Regions from separate parts of the Homo sapiens genome. Here region 2 is linked to region 1. A link means that fine-mapping ties the variant in region 1 to the expression of a gene that starts in the linked region. Tissue or cell type: whole blood. Region 1 holds a variant in brackets; the other region holds the start of a gene. All regions are shown on one strand. Distances are from middle to middle.

Region 1 (8,090 bases):
CTGCTGCTGCCCCCTGCCAGAGCTGTCTGGCCCATGGAGGTGAGGAGCTAGAGGACTCCCCGAAAGAGGCTTGCTGGGGCGTCTTTCTCTTCTGAAAGTTGAGCTCCAGTTTGGATTGACCTGGAAGGGAGCTGGGAGAAAAGGGGCGTGAAGAGCAGAATCCTGGCGGGGGCTCGTCACCCAGGTACCCCATCCTTTCACCCAAGTTTGCCAACGGGCCCGCTCCTCCCTCCTCGCTGCCCCAAAGCTCCTGGGCCCTTCATCTGCCCTCGCCCCATCTGATCCAGGTCGCCAGAGACTCTCGCGAGTTCGCCCCATTTGGGCCTCAGCATGGACCATCCCCCTTACTCGCCCGGAGCCCTCGCCGCTGCCCCCGAACCTCGGTTGACTTCCCAGCCCTGGAGGTCGCCGGGCCTCTGAAGGAGCCGGGCGGAAAGAAGCCGAGGCGCGCAGGGCGCAGACCGCCGGCCGCTTCCGCCCCCAGCTCCTCCCTTGGGCCGAGCCCGTCCCGCGGCCCCGCCCCTCCAGGGCCCTCTGGGGCTTAACCCTCTCATCGCCGCCCACGGCCGTGCAGCTCCGAGGCCACGCCCCTGTGGGGCCCCGCCCCCTCCTGGGCAGTTACCGCTCTATACCGGCAGCAGCCGCGGAGAGCATGCCCCGCCCCCGTGGAGCCCACCCCGGGCGGTTAACCTCGGGTCTCAGTCCCGGGCTGTGACCCTCCCCGAGGCCCCGCCCCCACGGCGAAGGCCCGGGGCAGTTAACCCTTCTCTTGCTGCGGCAGAGTCCGCACCCGGGCAGGCCCATCTCAGAATTAACGCTTTGATGGCATCACCGCGTCGGGAATCCCTGGGGATGGTGTTCTCCACCGTCAAGACCTTTGAGCCGCCTGAGCGACTAACTCCTGCGCCCCTGAGGGTAAGGAGCATGGGGTCAAGGAGGGGCTTCATTGTGCCGAATCCCATTTCTACTTCCCTGTGATTCTGGGTCACTGTTTCTGGGCTGGTCCCTTTCTGCCCCGGGTTGTGAGTCAGCCTGTGCCACCTCTGAGGCTGTGAAATCTGCTTCAGGCTCTAGGCTGTACGCATCATAGTTCTCCCTGCTGGTCCAGTCTTCATACTGGATGCCAATCCATTACTGAGCCGTTGATCTCATTTGGTAGAGTGTCCTGATTAAGACTTCGAGTTTGAGTGAAGCTATGCCACTAGTTAACTGCGCGATCTTGGGGAAGTTGCCCGATTTCTCTTTTTTTTTTTTTTGAGACAGGGTCTTGCTGTCACCAAGGCTAGAGTGCAGTGGCGCCATCACAGCCCACTGCAGCCTTGACCTCCTGGGCTCAAGTGATCCTCCTACCTCAGCCTCCCAAGTAGCTGGGACTACAGGCATGTGCTACCACACCCAGCTAATTTTTAAAAAAATATTTTTATTTTTATTTTTATTTTTTTCGAGACAGAGTCTTGCTCTTGTTGCCCAGGCTGGAGTGCAGCGGCACGATCTCGGCTCTCTGTAACCTCCATCTCCCAGGTTCAGGGGATTCTCCTGCCTCAGCCTCCTGAGTAGCTGGGATTACAGGCACCTGCCACCACGCCTAGCTATTTTTTGTATTTTTAGTAGACACAGGGTTTTGCCATGTTGGCCAGGCTGGTCTAGAACTCCTGACCTTGTGATCTGCCTGCCTTAGCCTCCCAAAGTGCTGAGATTACAGGTGTGAGCCACCACGTCCGGCCAAAAAAAAATTTTTTTTAGAGACAGGGTCTCCCAAAGTGCTGGGATTTCAGGCATGAGCCACTACGCCCAGCCCCAGATTTCTGTAGTTTTCTGTTATGTAAAATAGGAGCAATGATGGTAGTTACCTCACAGGGTTGTTGTGCAGTTGAAATAATCCAGGTAAAGCATGTAGCACAGAGCTGGGTACATAGTAGTCACTCACCAAGCATAGCTGTCAATGTGCTTAATGAGTGCCGACACTATAAGGAGGCAATATAATATAATGGCAAACATGCCAGCTGTGGGACCAGACTCCCCGGGCATGAATACCTGAAGGCCAGTGTGTGTATGACCTTGGGCAAATTACTGAACCTCCCTGTGCCTGTTTCTTCCTCTGTAAGACAGAGATCACATTAGTATCTATTGCATGGGGTTGGTAGTGAGAATCCAATGAGGTTATAGATGTAACACATTTGGAAGAGTTTCTGGTTCGCATTTAATGATTTGTGCTAAGCACTGGAGATTAAGCAGTGAATCCTTAAGGAGGTTACAAAGACTTTTATAAAATAATGTATCATGTAGTAATAGTAAATAAAATTATGGAGATATAAAGAAAGTACTATAGGAGTAAAAAGAATAGGACTCCTATCCGGGGTTCAAGCAGTTAGGAAAGGAGCATCTCCAAAAGAGGTTCACACCTGGGCTGAATCTTTTCATGTCCTAGAAGAGGTTCACACCTTCACACTGGGCTGAATCTTTCTCTTTTTTTTTTTGAGACGGAGTCTAAGCTCTGATGCCTAGGCTGGAGTGCAGTGGCGTGATCTCAGCTCACCTCTGCCTCCTGGGGTCAAGTGATTCTCCTGCCTCAGCCTCCCAAGTAGCTGGGACTACAAGCGTGCACCACCATGCCTGGCTAATTTTTGTATTTTTAGTAGAGACAGGGTTTCACTATGTTGCCCAGGCTGGCCTCGAACTCCTGACCTCGTGATCTGCCCGCCTCGGCCTCCCAAAGTGCTGGGGTTACCGGCATGAGCCACCGCGCCCAGCCTGGGCTGAATCTAAAAGGATGACCAGGAATTGGCCTGAGACGAGCCACTTCTCTGCAGTATGGAGGTTGGGTTACGGTTGCTGCATGTAGAAGATATTCCAGACAGAAGAGTCCGCATGAAAAAAAGCAAGAAGCAGCAGGTGGGTTTGGGGAAGTACGATATCTTCAAGGTTGCTACAGCCAGAAAGGAAGCATGAGAAGGGCCAGATAAGTAGACAGCAAGTCACAGAGGCCTTCTAGGCTGAGTTAAGGAATGCAAATGTTTTCCCATAGGACAGGCCAGTGATGGGGAGCCACTGTAGGATAGAAGAAGAGAGGAACATGGTCAGATAGGCATTTGATTTATTTATATATTTTGAGCCAGGGTCTCACTTTGTCACCCAGGCTGGAGTGGAGTAGCGTGATCACGACTCATGGCAGCCACAACCTCCTGAGCTCCGCTGATCCTCCTACCTCAGCCTCCTGAGTAGCTGGGACTACAGGTGCATACCGCCATGCCGAGCTAATTTATTTTTATTTTTTTAATTTACAAATTATTATTTCTTAATTTTTAAAATAGAGACAGAGTCTCAGTCTGTTGCCCAGGCTGGTCTCGAACTCCTGAGTCAAGCGATCCTCCTGCCTCAGCATCCCAAAGTACTGGGATTACAGGCGTGAGCCACTGTGCCTGGCCAGATCTGCATTTTAGAAAAACCACCCTGGCAGCAACATAGAGGAGCTTCAAGGGAAATAGAACTGGAAGTTGGCTGGGCGCGATGGCTCACACCTGTAATCCCAGCACTTTGGAAGGCTGAGATGGGCGAATCACCTGAGGTTTGGAGTTCGAGACCAGCCTGGCCAACATGGAGAAACCCTGTCTCTACTAAAAATACAAAATTAGCCGGGCATGGTGGAGCATGCCTGTAATCCCAGCTACTCAGGAGGTTGAGGCAGGAGAATTGCTTGAACCTGGGAGGTGGAGGTTGCGGTGAGCCGAGATCACGCCATTGCACTCCAGCCTGGGCAACAAGAGTGAAACTCTGTCTCAAAAAAAAAAAAAAAAAAGGACTGGAAGCAAAGACACCATTTCCAGCAGCCCAGGTGACAAGTGTCAACAGCCTGAAATAGGACAGTAGAAATAAGGATGAAAATAATTCAAGAAACACTGATGAAACGGCAAGATTTGGTGACTGATTAGATATGGAGTTGAGGCTGGGCACAGTGGCTCACGCCTGTAATCCCAGCACTTTGGGAGGCCGAGGCAGGCGGATCACCTGAGGTTGGGAGTTTGAGACCAGCCTGGCCAACATGGTGAAACCCTGTCTCTACTAAAAATACAAAAATTAGCTGTGTGTGGTGGTGGGCACCTGTAATCCCAGCTACTTCGGAGGGTGAAGCAGGAGAATTGCTTGAACCAGGGAGGTGGAGGCTGCAGTGAGCCGAGATGGCGCTACCGCACTCCAGCCTGGGCGACAGAGCAAGACTCCATCTCAAAAAAAAAAAAAAAAAAAAAAGAGAAAGGGAAGTTTCTAGCCTGGAAAAATTGATTGGAAGGTGGTGCCACCAATCAAGATGGAGATGACAGAAAGAGGAGTAATTGAGGGCAGGGGCAGGAGGGTGGGAGAGGGAGATGGTGAGTTCAGTTTAGGATATGTTTTTGAGGTGTCTGAGCCACAAGCAAATGGAACCATCCAGAACACACAAGAAAATGGCAGGTCTGGAGGCAGAATGAGAGGCCTGGGCTGGAGACAGGGATTTGGGAGGTGTGTCAGTCTTTAGTCAGGAGTTGAACTATGAGAATGAGTGAGTGAAATATGGGCGATGGGGACAAAGAGAGTGTGGAGCAACAGAAGGGTCAAGGAGAATAGAACAAGGTAGAAAATTCAGTTTTGATTACTTACAAGATTGTTTTGGTCAGAGGTCACTGGCAACCTTGGTGAGAGACAGCACATGTGGGGACTGGTAGGTGGAACTCCAGGCTGAAGGGGCTGGACTGTCACAAGCTTTACATTTTGAAGGAATAGAAAATGAGGAGAAGTAAATTACAATTATGTCACATAGTTAAAGTTACCCTTGGAAATCCCTTAGTAGGCTGGGTGCAGTGGCTCATTCCTGTAATCCCACCACTTTGAGAGGCTGAAGCAGGAGCTTGAGCCCAGGAGTTTGAGACCAGCCTGGAAGACTAGTGAGACCCCATCTCTACCAAATAATAATAATAAAATAGGCCGGACGCGGTGGCTGACGCCTGTAATCCCAGCACTTTGGGAGG[C/T]CGAGGCGTGTGGATCACCTGAGGTCAGGAGTTCAAGACCAGCCTGGCCAACATGGTGAAATCCCGTCTCTACTAAATATACAAAAAAAAAAAAATTAGCCAGGCGTGGTGGTGTGCACCTGTAATCCCTCAGCAGGAGAATTGTTTGAACCCAGGAGGCGGAGGTTGCAGTGAGTCAGGATGGCGCCACTGCACTCCAACATGGGCGACAGAGTGATACTCCATCTCAGAAAACAAAACAAAAAAATAAAATAGGCTGGGCATGGTGGCTCATGCCTGTAATCTCAGCACTTTGGGAGGCCGAGGCAGGTGGATCACTTGAGGTCAGGAGTTCGAGACCAGCCTGGCCAACATGGTGAAACCCCGTCTCTACTAAAAATACAAAAATTAGCTGGGCGTGGTGGCATGTGCCTATAATCCCAGCTACGCAGGAGGCTGAGGAAGGAGAATCGTGCCTGTAATCCCAGCTACTCAGGAGGCTGAGGCAGAAGAACCCGCAAGGCAGAGGTTGCAGTGAGCCAAGATCCTGCCACTGCACTCCAGCCTGGCGACAGAGCAAGACTCCGTCTCAAAAAATAAAGTAAAATAAAATAAAAATAATTGAGGACCACAAGAACTAGGAAAAAAAGAAAAAAGAAAAAAGAAAGGCCGAGGCAGGCAGATCACCTGAGGTCGGGAGTTTGAGGCCAGCCTGACCAACATGGAGAAACCTCGTCTCTACTAAAAATACAAAAATCAGCTAGGCATGGTGGCACATGCCTGTAATCCCAGCTACTCGGGAGGCTGAGGCAGGAGAATCGCTTGAACCTGGGAGGCAGAGGTTGTGGTGAGCTGAGATTGAGCCATTGCACTCCAGCCTGGACAACAAGAGCGAAACTCCATCTCAAAAAAAAAAAAAAAAAGAAAAAGAAAATCCCTCAGTTACTGCATCTGTTAGGTGAGCATATATTCGTTTGTGTAAAAATCACTATGTGGCTGTATATATATATATATATATATATATATATATATATATATATATATATATATATATAAAATGATGTACAAAATATTTTATAATGTTTTAAAGAGGAAGAAGAAAGCAGCACACTAAGAAGTAACTCAGGAATGGAAAACCAAACATCATATGTTCTCATAAGTGGGAGCTAAGCCATGAGAATGCAGAGGCATAAGAATGACACAATGGACCTTGGGTACTCAGGGGGAAAGGGTGGGAAGAGGTGGAGGGATAAAAGACTATAAATAGCGTTCAGTGTATACTGCTTGGGTGATGGGTGCACCAAAATCTCACAAATCACCACGAAAGAACTTACTCATATAACCAAACACCACCTGTTCCCCAATAACCTATGAAAATAAAATAATAATAAAAAGAAGAAGAAAGCATACTAAAATAAAGATATGAACCTGAAACTTGTCATCCACCCAACCTGGATATGCTTGCCAGTATGTGACATCAATAATAACATCATGACTGTAAGACCAGGCACAGTGGCTCACACCTGTAATCCCAGCACTTTGGGAGGCCAAGGTGGGCCGATTTGAGATCAGAAGTTGAAGACCAGCCTGGGCAGCATGATGAAACCCCGCCTCTACAAAAAATACAAAAAATTAGCCAGGCTTTGGTGGCTTGCGCCTGCCATCCCAGCTACTCAAGAGGCTGAGGCAAGAGAATCCCTTGAGTCTAGAATTGGAGGTTGCGGTGAGCCAAGATCAGGCCACTGCACTCCAGCCTGGGTGACAGAGCGAGACCCCGTCTCAAAAAATAAATAACATCATGACTGTGGGTGGCAGCCTATGATGAATAGTAGTGAAGGACCCATGTGATAACCAAGGCCTGGGGACAGAGAACAGTGCCTGCCCCATGGCTAGCTCTAGCTCAGCTTGAGAATTTAATCACGCCTGTGCTGCTGATGCTGCTGCTGCTGCTGCTACTGGTTGTTTAAAACATGGTTGTTGGCCGGGCACAGTGGCTCACGCCTGTAATCCCACCACTTTGGGAGGCTGAGGCAGGCAGATCATCTGAGATAAGGAGTTCGAGACCAGCCTGGCCTACATGGTGAAACCCCGTCTCTACTAAAAAATACATAAAAATTAGCCAGGCCTACTGGCACGTGCCTGTAGTCCCAGCTACTCAGGAAGCCGAGGCAGAAGAACCACTTGAACCCAGGAGGCGGAGGTTGCAGTGAGCCGAGATTGCGCCACTGCACTCCAGTCTGGGCGACAGAGGGAGACTTTGTCTCAAAAAAAAAAAAAAAAGGTTGTTTTAAACAATTCATCAGTTGATGCCACTGAATCTGGAGCTGGTCAAACATTTGTTGCTAAAAGGTAAAAAATTTCGTAATGCTACAAGTAATTTAAATTTTTTACTTAAAAATTAAAAAAAAAAAAAAATTGGCCGGGCATGGTGGCTCACACCTGTAATCCCAGCACTTTGGGAGGCCGAGGCGGGTGGATCACAAGGTCAAGAGATCGAGACCATCCTGGCTTTAGTAGAGACAGTGAAACCCCGTCTCTACTAAAAATACAAAAAAAATTAGCCAGGCGTGGTGGTGGGCGCCTGTAGTCCCAGCTACTCGGGAGGCTGAGGCAAGAGAATGGCGTGAACCCTGGAGGCAGAGCTTGCAGTGAGCCAAGATCACGCCACTGCACTCCAGCCTGGGTGACAGAGCGACATTCCATCTCAAAAAAAAAAAAAAAATTATAGATGAGGTCTTGCTATTTTGCCCAGGCTGGACTCAAATTCCTGGGTTCAAGTAATCCCCCCAACCTCAGCCTCCCAAGTAGCTGAGACTACAGGCATGTGCCACAATGCCTTTTTACTTATTTTATTATTTTGTTGAGACAGGGTCTCAGTGTACTCCAGGCTGGAGTGCAGTGGCACGACCATGACTCACTGCAGCCTCACCCCAGCCTCCTGAGTAGCTAGGACTACAGGCACATGCCACCAGGCCTGGCTAATATTTAACTTTTCGTAGAGACAGGGACTCTCTCTATGTTGCCCAGGTTGATCTCAAACTCCTGTACTCAAGCAATTCTCCTGCCTCGTCCTCCCAAAGTGCTGGGATTACAGGCATGAGCCACCATGCC
Region 2 (8,089 bases), 38 kb after region 1:
GTGGTGCACACCTGTGGTTTCAGCTACTCAGGAGGCTGAGGTTGGAGGATCACTTGAGCCCAGGAGTTCAAGGTTGCAGTGAGCCATGATTGTGCCACTGCACTCCAGCCTGGGTGACAGAGTGAGCTGTCTCTAAAAGAAAGAAAGGAATCAGAGGTGATTCCTGTTCCTAAGGGGCTCACAGTCTGGCTCCAACTCTTTTTTCCTCACCCTATCCTATATAAGTTTCCACTGCCCTTCTCCATTTCCTCGGTCCCAATTCACCTTCCCATTTCCTGCCTCTCTTCTCCTGAGCCCCACCTGTAAGGGATGACCTTTTTACTGATTAAAAAAACACAAGATGTGCTCAGATTTGAGGAGAGAAGGACATTTGTAAGAAAATCTTTTGGTAGAAAGGCACTGAAGATCAGCAACTCTTGTCGGATGGAGGACTTTATGTGTGTTTATTTCAGCAAACATGTAAGGAAACTGCCTCTTTCCTTAGTCAACAAGACCAGATTCTTGAGCTGGTAATGGAAAGAGCATCTCCAAGTAGGGAGAGGTGGTTGCATCTGGAAGCCCCAACTCTCATCCTGACCCCCTGGGCATTCTCTTATTCATGAACTCTGCCACACGGATCTGGTGGGGTGTGTATCTGTGCCATCTTCCTGTTAATGATCTAGACAGGCATGATGGACCCTTCCTGAGTGGCTATTAAATGGGGATGTTTTGAGAGTAAGTCGGGTGTGTGTGTGGAGGGGGGTGAGGGTGTCTCAATGATTGGCAGGTGCCTCTGGGGCCAGAGATGCTAAGCATCCAACAATGTATGGCAGAGTCCAGTACAAAGTTCCTGTAGCCCTCCTGGTGAGAAACACTGCATGAGGCTCAGCACGACCATGAGATCAGGCTGAAACACTTAAATAGATTTCATAAAAGCTTAAAGCCAGAACATGAAAATAAATAAAATTCCAGGCATGGTGGCTCACGCCTGTAATCCCAGCACTTTGGGGGGGCCAAGGCAAGAGGACTGCTTGAGGCCAGGCGTTCAAGACAAACCTGGGCAACATAGTGAGACCCAGTCTCTACAAAAAATTTAAACATTAGCCAGGTGTGGTGGCACATGCCTGGAGGTACTTAGGAAGCTAAGGTGAGAGGATCACTTGAGCCCAGGAATTCAAGGCTGCAGTGAGCTATGATCATGCCACTGCACCCCCAACCGGGGTGACATAGTGAGACCCTGTCTCAATAAAAATAAAATAAAAACAGAGTATCATATAATGAGGCACATTAGGAGATGAAGTTTATTCTTCAGGTTGGGAGGCTCCAACCCATCCATAGCCTTAGGTTCTCTTTGTGGAGAGCACGAACCGAGCATCCACCACCCTAAACTCCAGCTTAGATCCCAGTTCCTTGTCCACTGACCTAGGTCCTACAGGGTGGAGTGCAGTGGCTCGATCTCGGCTCACTGTAATCTCAAACTCCTGGGGTCAAGCAATCCCTCCTCCTCAGCTAAGTAGCAAGGACTACAGGTGTATGCCATCACGCCCAGCTAATTTTTTTATTTTTAGCTTTTGTACAGATGGGGTCTCGCTATGTTGCCCAGGCTGGGTCCTACCTTCTACCCTCCATTTAGGTGTGATCACAGAAAATGTCTCTCCCTGTGAGGAAAATTTGCCCTCTCCTCCCCAGCTACAAGACAGGGTTGTGGCCTAGCTTTGCTGCACCAAAAGAACACATGAATGTATTACAGAGTAGAATATGGCACTTAGGGATTCCTTGAAGGGCAGAAGCAGGACCAGAGCGGGGTCACACAGCACCTCTGCAGTAAATCTGGCAAGGCTTGGCAGGCCAGTCCTCACAGTGTTTCTAGGGACACTGGAACCCCGAGAGTCCCCCAGAGGCCCCATTCCTAGCAACTGGCAACCAAAGCCCATTATTCCTGCATGAACCCCTCCTGACCACACTGGCAGGGGCAACATGGTGGCCAACCTGGGGGAGCTGGCCAAGCTTCGAGACCTGCCCAAGCTGCGAGCGTTGGTGCTGCTTGATAACCCATGCACGGACGAAACCAGCTACCGCCAGGAGGCCCTGGTGCAGATGCCATACCTTGAACGCCTGGACAAGGAATTCTATGAGGAGGAGGAACGGGCTGAGGCTGATGTGATTCGACAGAGGCTGAAGGAAGAAAAGGAGCAGGAGCCTGAGCCCCAGCGTGACCTGGAACCCGAACAGTCATTGATCTAGCAGCAGTTCTAGCCTCTAAAGATAGTAAGGAAGCCTGCAGGGAGGCAGTGGGAGGAGGCCAAGGGCTGGGCAGGTAGGGGAAGAGGCAAGAGGGGAAGCTGCTGCAGAAGGAGGTGGGAGAGGAAAGCATCAGACAAGCAGGACCCTTAAAGAGAGGAGGGTTAGGAGTCAGGGAGAGGAAAAGGGACCCAAGGGGCCTGGGACCAGCTGAGAAAGACTTAGGAGGCCAGAAGAGTAAGTGAAAAGAATTGGGGTGGCAGGCAGAGGAGTTGGTGGGGGGTGGGGCAGCCATACCTGACACAGAGTGAAGTCGGCTAGGAAAGGACAGGTGTGGGTGCATGGTAGGGGCTGCAGGGGAAAGTTGGTGGTGTATGCAGCTGGACCTAGGAGAGAAGCAGGAGAGGAAGATCCAGCACAAAAAATCTGAAGCTAAAAACAGGACACAGAGATGGGGGAAGAAAAGAGGGCAGAGTGAGGCAAAAAGAGACTGAAGAGATGAGGGTGGCCGCCAGGCACTTTAGATAGGGGAGAGGCTTTATTTACCTCTGTTTGTTTTTTTTTTTTTTTTTTTTTTTTTTTTGCGAGGTAGTCTTGCTTAGTCTCCAGGCTGGAGTGCAGTGGCACAATCTCAGCTCACTGCAACTTCCACCTCCTGGGTTCAAGCAATTCTCCTGCCTCAGCCTCCCGAGTAGCTGGGACTACAGGCGCATGCAACCGCGCCTGGCTAATTTTTGTATTTTTAGTAGAAACGGGGTTTCACCACGTTAGCCAGGATGGTCTGGATCTCCTGACCTCGTGATCTGCCCGCCTCCGCCTTCCAAAGTGCTGGGATTACAGGGGTGAGCCACAGCGCCTGGTCCCTATTTACTTCTGTCTTCTACCTCCAGGAGATCAAAGACGCTGGCCTTCAGACCTGATCAGACTCCCAGGGGCAGCCACCACATGTATGACAGAGAACAGAGGATGCCTGTTTTTGCCCCAAAGCTGGAAATTCATCACAACCTGAGGCCCAGGATCTGCTCTGTGCCGGTCCTCTGGGCAGTGTGGGGTGCAGAATGGGGTGCCTAGGCCTGAGCGTTGCCTGGAGCCTAGGCCGGGGGCCGCCCTCGGGCAGGCGTGGGTGAGAGCCAAGACCGCGTGGGCCGCGGGGTGCTGGTAGGAGTGGTTGGAGAGACTTGCGAAGGCGGCTGGGGTGTTCGGATTTCCAATAAAGAAACAGAGTGATGCTCCTGTGTCTGACCGGGTTTGTGAGACATTGAGGCTGTCTTGGGCTTCACTGGCAGTGTGGGCCTTCGTACCCGGGCTACAGGGGTGCGGCTCTGCCTGTTACTGTCGAGTGGGTCGGGCCGTGGGTATGAGCGCTTGTGTGCGCTGGGGCCAGGTCGTGGGTGCCCCCACCCTTCCCCCATCCTCCTCCCTTCCCCACTCCACCCTCGTCGGTCCCCCACCCGCGCTCGTACGTGCGCCTCCGCCGGCAGCTCCTGACTCATCGGGGGCTCCGGGTCACATGCGCCCGCGCGGCCCTATAGGCGCCTCCTCCGCCCGCCGCCCGGGAGCCGCAGCCGCCGCCGCCACTGCCACTCCCGCTCTCTCAGCGCCGCCGTCGCCACCGCCACCGCCACCGCCACTACCACCGTCTGAGTCTGCAGTCCCGAGGTGAAGCCCCCGCCAGGCCCAGAGCCCCTGTGGCCCCCTCCCTTCGCCGCGGCGCCCCTGCCTCCTTTACCCGGTGCCGCTGCGCACCTCTCCGCATCTCTGGCCCGGTGCAGCTGCGCACCTGCTCCGCCGCCCGCGCCCAGGGCGCCTTCCCTCCCTGGCCTTCCCCGCCCGCTGCCTTCGCTTTCTGGCCCTCTGCGCGCCTATCTCTAACTGCGCCTCTCCACCCTTGCCTGCCTCTCTCCCGGTGCTCGCCCTCATCTACGGTTCTATTTGTTTCTAAGTTGGGAGCCTCTCCGGGCGGTGCATTTTTATCCTAGAGCGTCCCTTTTGGTTTGCATTTGGGGAAATGTCTTCTCTCACCGTTCCTCACCTCCCCCAGACTTCCCTTGGACTCCCCTCTCTCCTGCTCTTCCCCACGGCGCCCCTCTCCGTTCGCGCTTCCTCCCCTCTGCTGCACGGGGGAGAGATGGAAGAAGTGGGGATCTGTCGAGGCGCAGAGGGGAGGACAGGCCCAGCTCGCCTCCACTCCCCACCGGCTCTTATCCTCTTCACTTCCCGCTGCAACCCCCAGGGACTGCAGGGCCTTTCTCAGGACCCTCTTCCCCGACACCTGTATTGCATGCGCCTTTCGCGGGAAGAGGAGGGATACACGTTTGGGAGAGAGTGGGACCTTGGGGAAGGGGCAGTGTTCAGGCAGCTGGGGTGTTAAGTTGGGGAGGTATGGGGGCTCTGGAAGAGAGGCCCAGGCAGCCCATCCTCTTCTTGGCTCCCAGGAGAAATGCAAGCCTGGCAGCCATTCCGCTCTGAGGAGATCTGGGGGAACCCCACCGGCTGGCCAAGCTGCAAAGAGGCGCGGGAACCACTGTCGTGCCCCTCCCCTCCTCACTGCAGTGTTCTCCCATCTCATCATTTGATCTTACCCCGCCCCCCACTGCAGTGACCTCCCCTTCCTCACTGCATTGACCTTCTCCTCTTCCCAGGGGGGAGGGGGAATCCCTTCTACAGCCCTAGACTGCAGCCAGCGCCTCCCTACCCACCCCCCACCCACTGCAGTAACCTCTTTCCCATCCCTCCCAGCCTCCCGCCCCGCCCATTGATCTCAGGCTCCACCCCTCTAAGCCTCTTATCTTTCTCCTTCCTTCCCTTCCACCCGAGGAGATCCCAGCCATCATGTCCATAGAGAAGATCTGGGCCCGGGAGATCCTGGACTCCCGCGGGAACCCCACAGTGGAGGTGGATCTCTATACTGCCAAAGGTAATGGGTGTGGCATGGGCCTTCCTACAGCCCTAGCTTTTCCACGGCCAGGCTGGGTTCGGCCAGGGGTTCGGAGGCCTTTTTTGATACCCAGGGGTATGGGGTGCTGGGCCAGGCTCACAAGCCTGGGTTGTGGCGGTTGGATCCTCCTTGTCCGGGGAGCCAGGGTAGGTGGGTCTGTGTTCGAGTTTAGCGTGTGAGGCATGTCCTGCCTCCGTGTGTCTGCCTGTGCACTTGCATGTGTGCAGACGTGTGCTGCAAGCAATTTTCTTTCTGCGGGCTCCCACTTGTGCATGTGGGGCCTCAGATGGGTGGATGAGGAGGCCACTTCTTGTGCATCTGCCTCAGTGTGTGTGTGGGGTGGGGGTGGGGGGATGTTAGGGAGCAGTGTGGGGAGAGAGCTAGATGTGGTAGGCAGGCAGTTTAGAGCCAGAAGGCTGAAGGACTCCCTGGCCCCTGTGTCCTCTTCACTCCCTCTCATTCCATGTTCCTCCTTTAGGTCTTTTCCGGGCTGCAGTGCCCAGTGGAGCCTCTACGGGCATCTATGAGGCCCTGGAGCTGAGGGATGGAGACAAACAGCGTTACTTAGGCAAAGGTGAGGTCCCTTCTCTTTTCCAGACTCTCCCCCACCTCAGCCTTATGCCCCTACCTCACACCAGTCCCCAGTCCTCCTCTAGCATGGCTTCCCCTCCTCCCATTGATCCCTTCCGGCCCCTCCTGGCCCGACCCAGTCCAGCCTCTTCCTTTCCCCAGGTGTCCTGAAGGCAGTGGACCACATCAACTCCACCATCGCGCCAGCCCTCATCAGCTCAGTGAGGCCTGCTCTTTGCTGGGGATAGCAGGGCCAGAGTTCTGGAAGGAATCCCGGAGCAGGGCAGGAGGAAGGGAAGAAAGAAGGCCCACTCTTAGGAATCATGGTTACAAGGGGGAAGGGTGGGGAACAGCTTCCTTAATGCACCCTGCTCCCATGGGAGTTCAGGTCCCCTAATCCAGGTAGGCCCCTGTCACAGGGACCTGGTTGGACCCTGGCCAAATGTGAGCTTGGGTGTGAATGAGGGGACCCTCTGCCTTAGGGCTCAGCCTCCAGCCTGGCCCTGGGTGATGGAGGCTCTGCCCTCAGGGTCTCTCTGTGGTGGAGCAAGAGAAACTGGACAACCTGATGCTGGAGTTGGATGGGACTGAGAACAAATGTGAGCCGGGGCCGGGAGAAAGTGGGGAAGCGTCAGGGTGGGGAGGCGTGGAGCAGATAGAGAGCTGAAGGGCCAGTGCTGTAGTGGCTTCCTCAGGAATGACTGTCAGGGGCATTCTCCTCTCAAAGCCAGAGCAAGGGGAGATGAGTTTAGCTGCAGAGGGAAGGACCGACAGTAGGCAGAAGGAAGACCTTCTTTGCAGCATACAGAGGAGGGGGATGGCCTGAGAGAGTCTGTGGTCTCAGGGATATTTAGAAAGAGGTGTGGCTCTCTGCCGTTTCCAATCTCCTCCTCCCCACCCATTCCTCTCCCTGCTGTTTTCAAGAGAGCATGGATGAGGTGTTGCTGGGGCAGGGGTGGGGAGGGAGGAGGGGGTCTCCTTTACTGGCTCCTTTTGGAGACTACAGATGGAGGCAGGAGCTAGAAAGGAGAAGGGGACATTGTGCTCAGCACCTTCCTCTATAATCTCCTAGCCAAGTTTGGGGCCAATGCCATCCTGGGTGTGTCTCTGGCCGTGTGTAAGGCAGGGGCAGCTGAGCGGGAACTGCCCCTGTATCGCCACATTGCTCAGCTGGCCGGGAACTCAGACCTCATCCTGCCTGTGCCGGTGAGCAATAAGCCAGCCTGCGGCTCTCCCAGGGGCGGGTGGGGGAGGGAGCATGCAACTCATGAGGAATGATGGGAGGAAAGTGAATTGAGGGAGGTAAAGAGGAAGGATGGGGACGTGAGACTTAGTCCGGAAAGCTGGGGGAAGTTTGGGATCTTGGGTTAACACTCCTGGGGCGGGCAGGGAGGGGCTCTTTGACCCTTCTGTCTTTCTGTGGCTCCCCAGGCCTTCAACGTGATCAATGGTGGCTCTCATGCTGGCAACAAGCTGGCCATGCAGGAGTTCATGATCCTCCCAGTGGGAGCTGAGAGCTTTCGGGATGCCATGCGACTAGGTGCAGAGGTCTACCATACACTCAAGGGAGTCATCAAGGACAAATACGGCAAGGATGCCACCAATGTGGGGGATGAAGGTGGCTTTGCCCCCAATATCCTGGAGAACAGTGAAGGTGAGGCCAGGAGCCCCACTCCCAGCTCTAAGTCTTACCCTATTGTGGGACATCAGAAAGGGTGACACAGTTCACCAAGTCCTGAGTAGGCGTGGAGGGTCCTAGGACTCTGCAAACTCCAAAAGGTACCAGTTCTTAGAGTGGATTGCAGAGAGCCTGCCAAATTCACATGCAGACCTAGGGGGACAGTATTTTTTTTTTTTTTTGAGACGGAGTCTTGCTCTGTCACCCAGGCTGGAGTGCAGTGGCTCGATCTCAGCTCACTGCAAGCTCCGCCTCCCGGGTTCACGCCATTCTCCTGCCTCAGCCTCCCGAGTAGCTGGGACTACAGGCGCCCGCCACCACGCCCGGCTAATTTTTTGTATTTTTTAGTAGAGACAGGGTTTCACTGTGGTCTCGAACTCCTGACCTTGTGATCGGCCCGCCTCGGCCTCCCAAAGTGCTGGGATTACAAGCGTGAGCCACCACGCCTGGCCAGGGGACAGTCTTTTACCTGCCTAGCCAGATGTGTTAGCATCTGTTAAGTTGCCACTGGAAGGCCGGGCGCGGTGGCTCACACCTGTAATCCCAGCACTTTGGGAGGCTGAGGCGGGTGGATCACCTGAGGTCAGGAGTTTGAGACCAGCCTGGCCAACAAGGTGAAACCCCGTCTCTACTAAAAATACAAAAATTAGCCGGGCATGGTGGCGTGTGCCTGTAATCACAGA

The links. PIP is the estimated chance that this variant, and not a neighbour inherited with it, causes the effect.
Region 2: ENO2 starts here. The variant in region 1 is fine-mapped to the expression of ENO2 in whole blood (TOPMed, PIP above 0.99).

The regions. Positions count from the first base shown.
Region 1 is chr12:6,872,867-6,880,956 of GRCh38, forward strand. It overlaps SPSB2 (splA/ryanodine receptor domain and SOCS box containing 2), which reads right to left and starts at 437. Exons shown (of 3, transcript NM_032641.4): 1 at 380-437; 2 at 1-131. The coding sequence starts at 35. It overlaps LOC105369632 (a long non-coding RNA gene), which reads right to left. Exons shown (of 4, transcript NR_135083.1): 3 at 4,633-4,734; 4 at 2,898-3,048. RefSeq lists an enhancer at 1-6 and a silencer at 397-846. The variant C/T (reference allele first, on the strand shown) is at 5,001.
Region 2 is chr12:6,910,781-6,918,869 of GRCh38, forward strand. ENO2 (enolase 2) reads left to right here and starts at 3,800. Exons shown (of 12, transcript NM_001975.3): 1 at 3,800-3,879; 2 at 5,041-5,137; 3 at 5,637-5,732; 4 at 5,891-5,949; 5 at 6,258-6,327; 6 at 6,801-6,934; 7 at 7,160-7,382. The coding sequence starts at 5,053. LRRC23 (leucine rich repeat containing 23) reads left to right here. Exons shown (of 8, transcript NM_001135217.2): 7 at 1,950-2,247; 8 at 3,111-3,449. The coding sequence ends at 2,223. RefSeq lists enhancers at 3,203-3,272, 3,303-3,472, 4,151-4,792, 4,793-5,432 and silencers at 3,583-4,072, 3,604-3,794.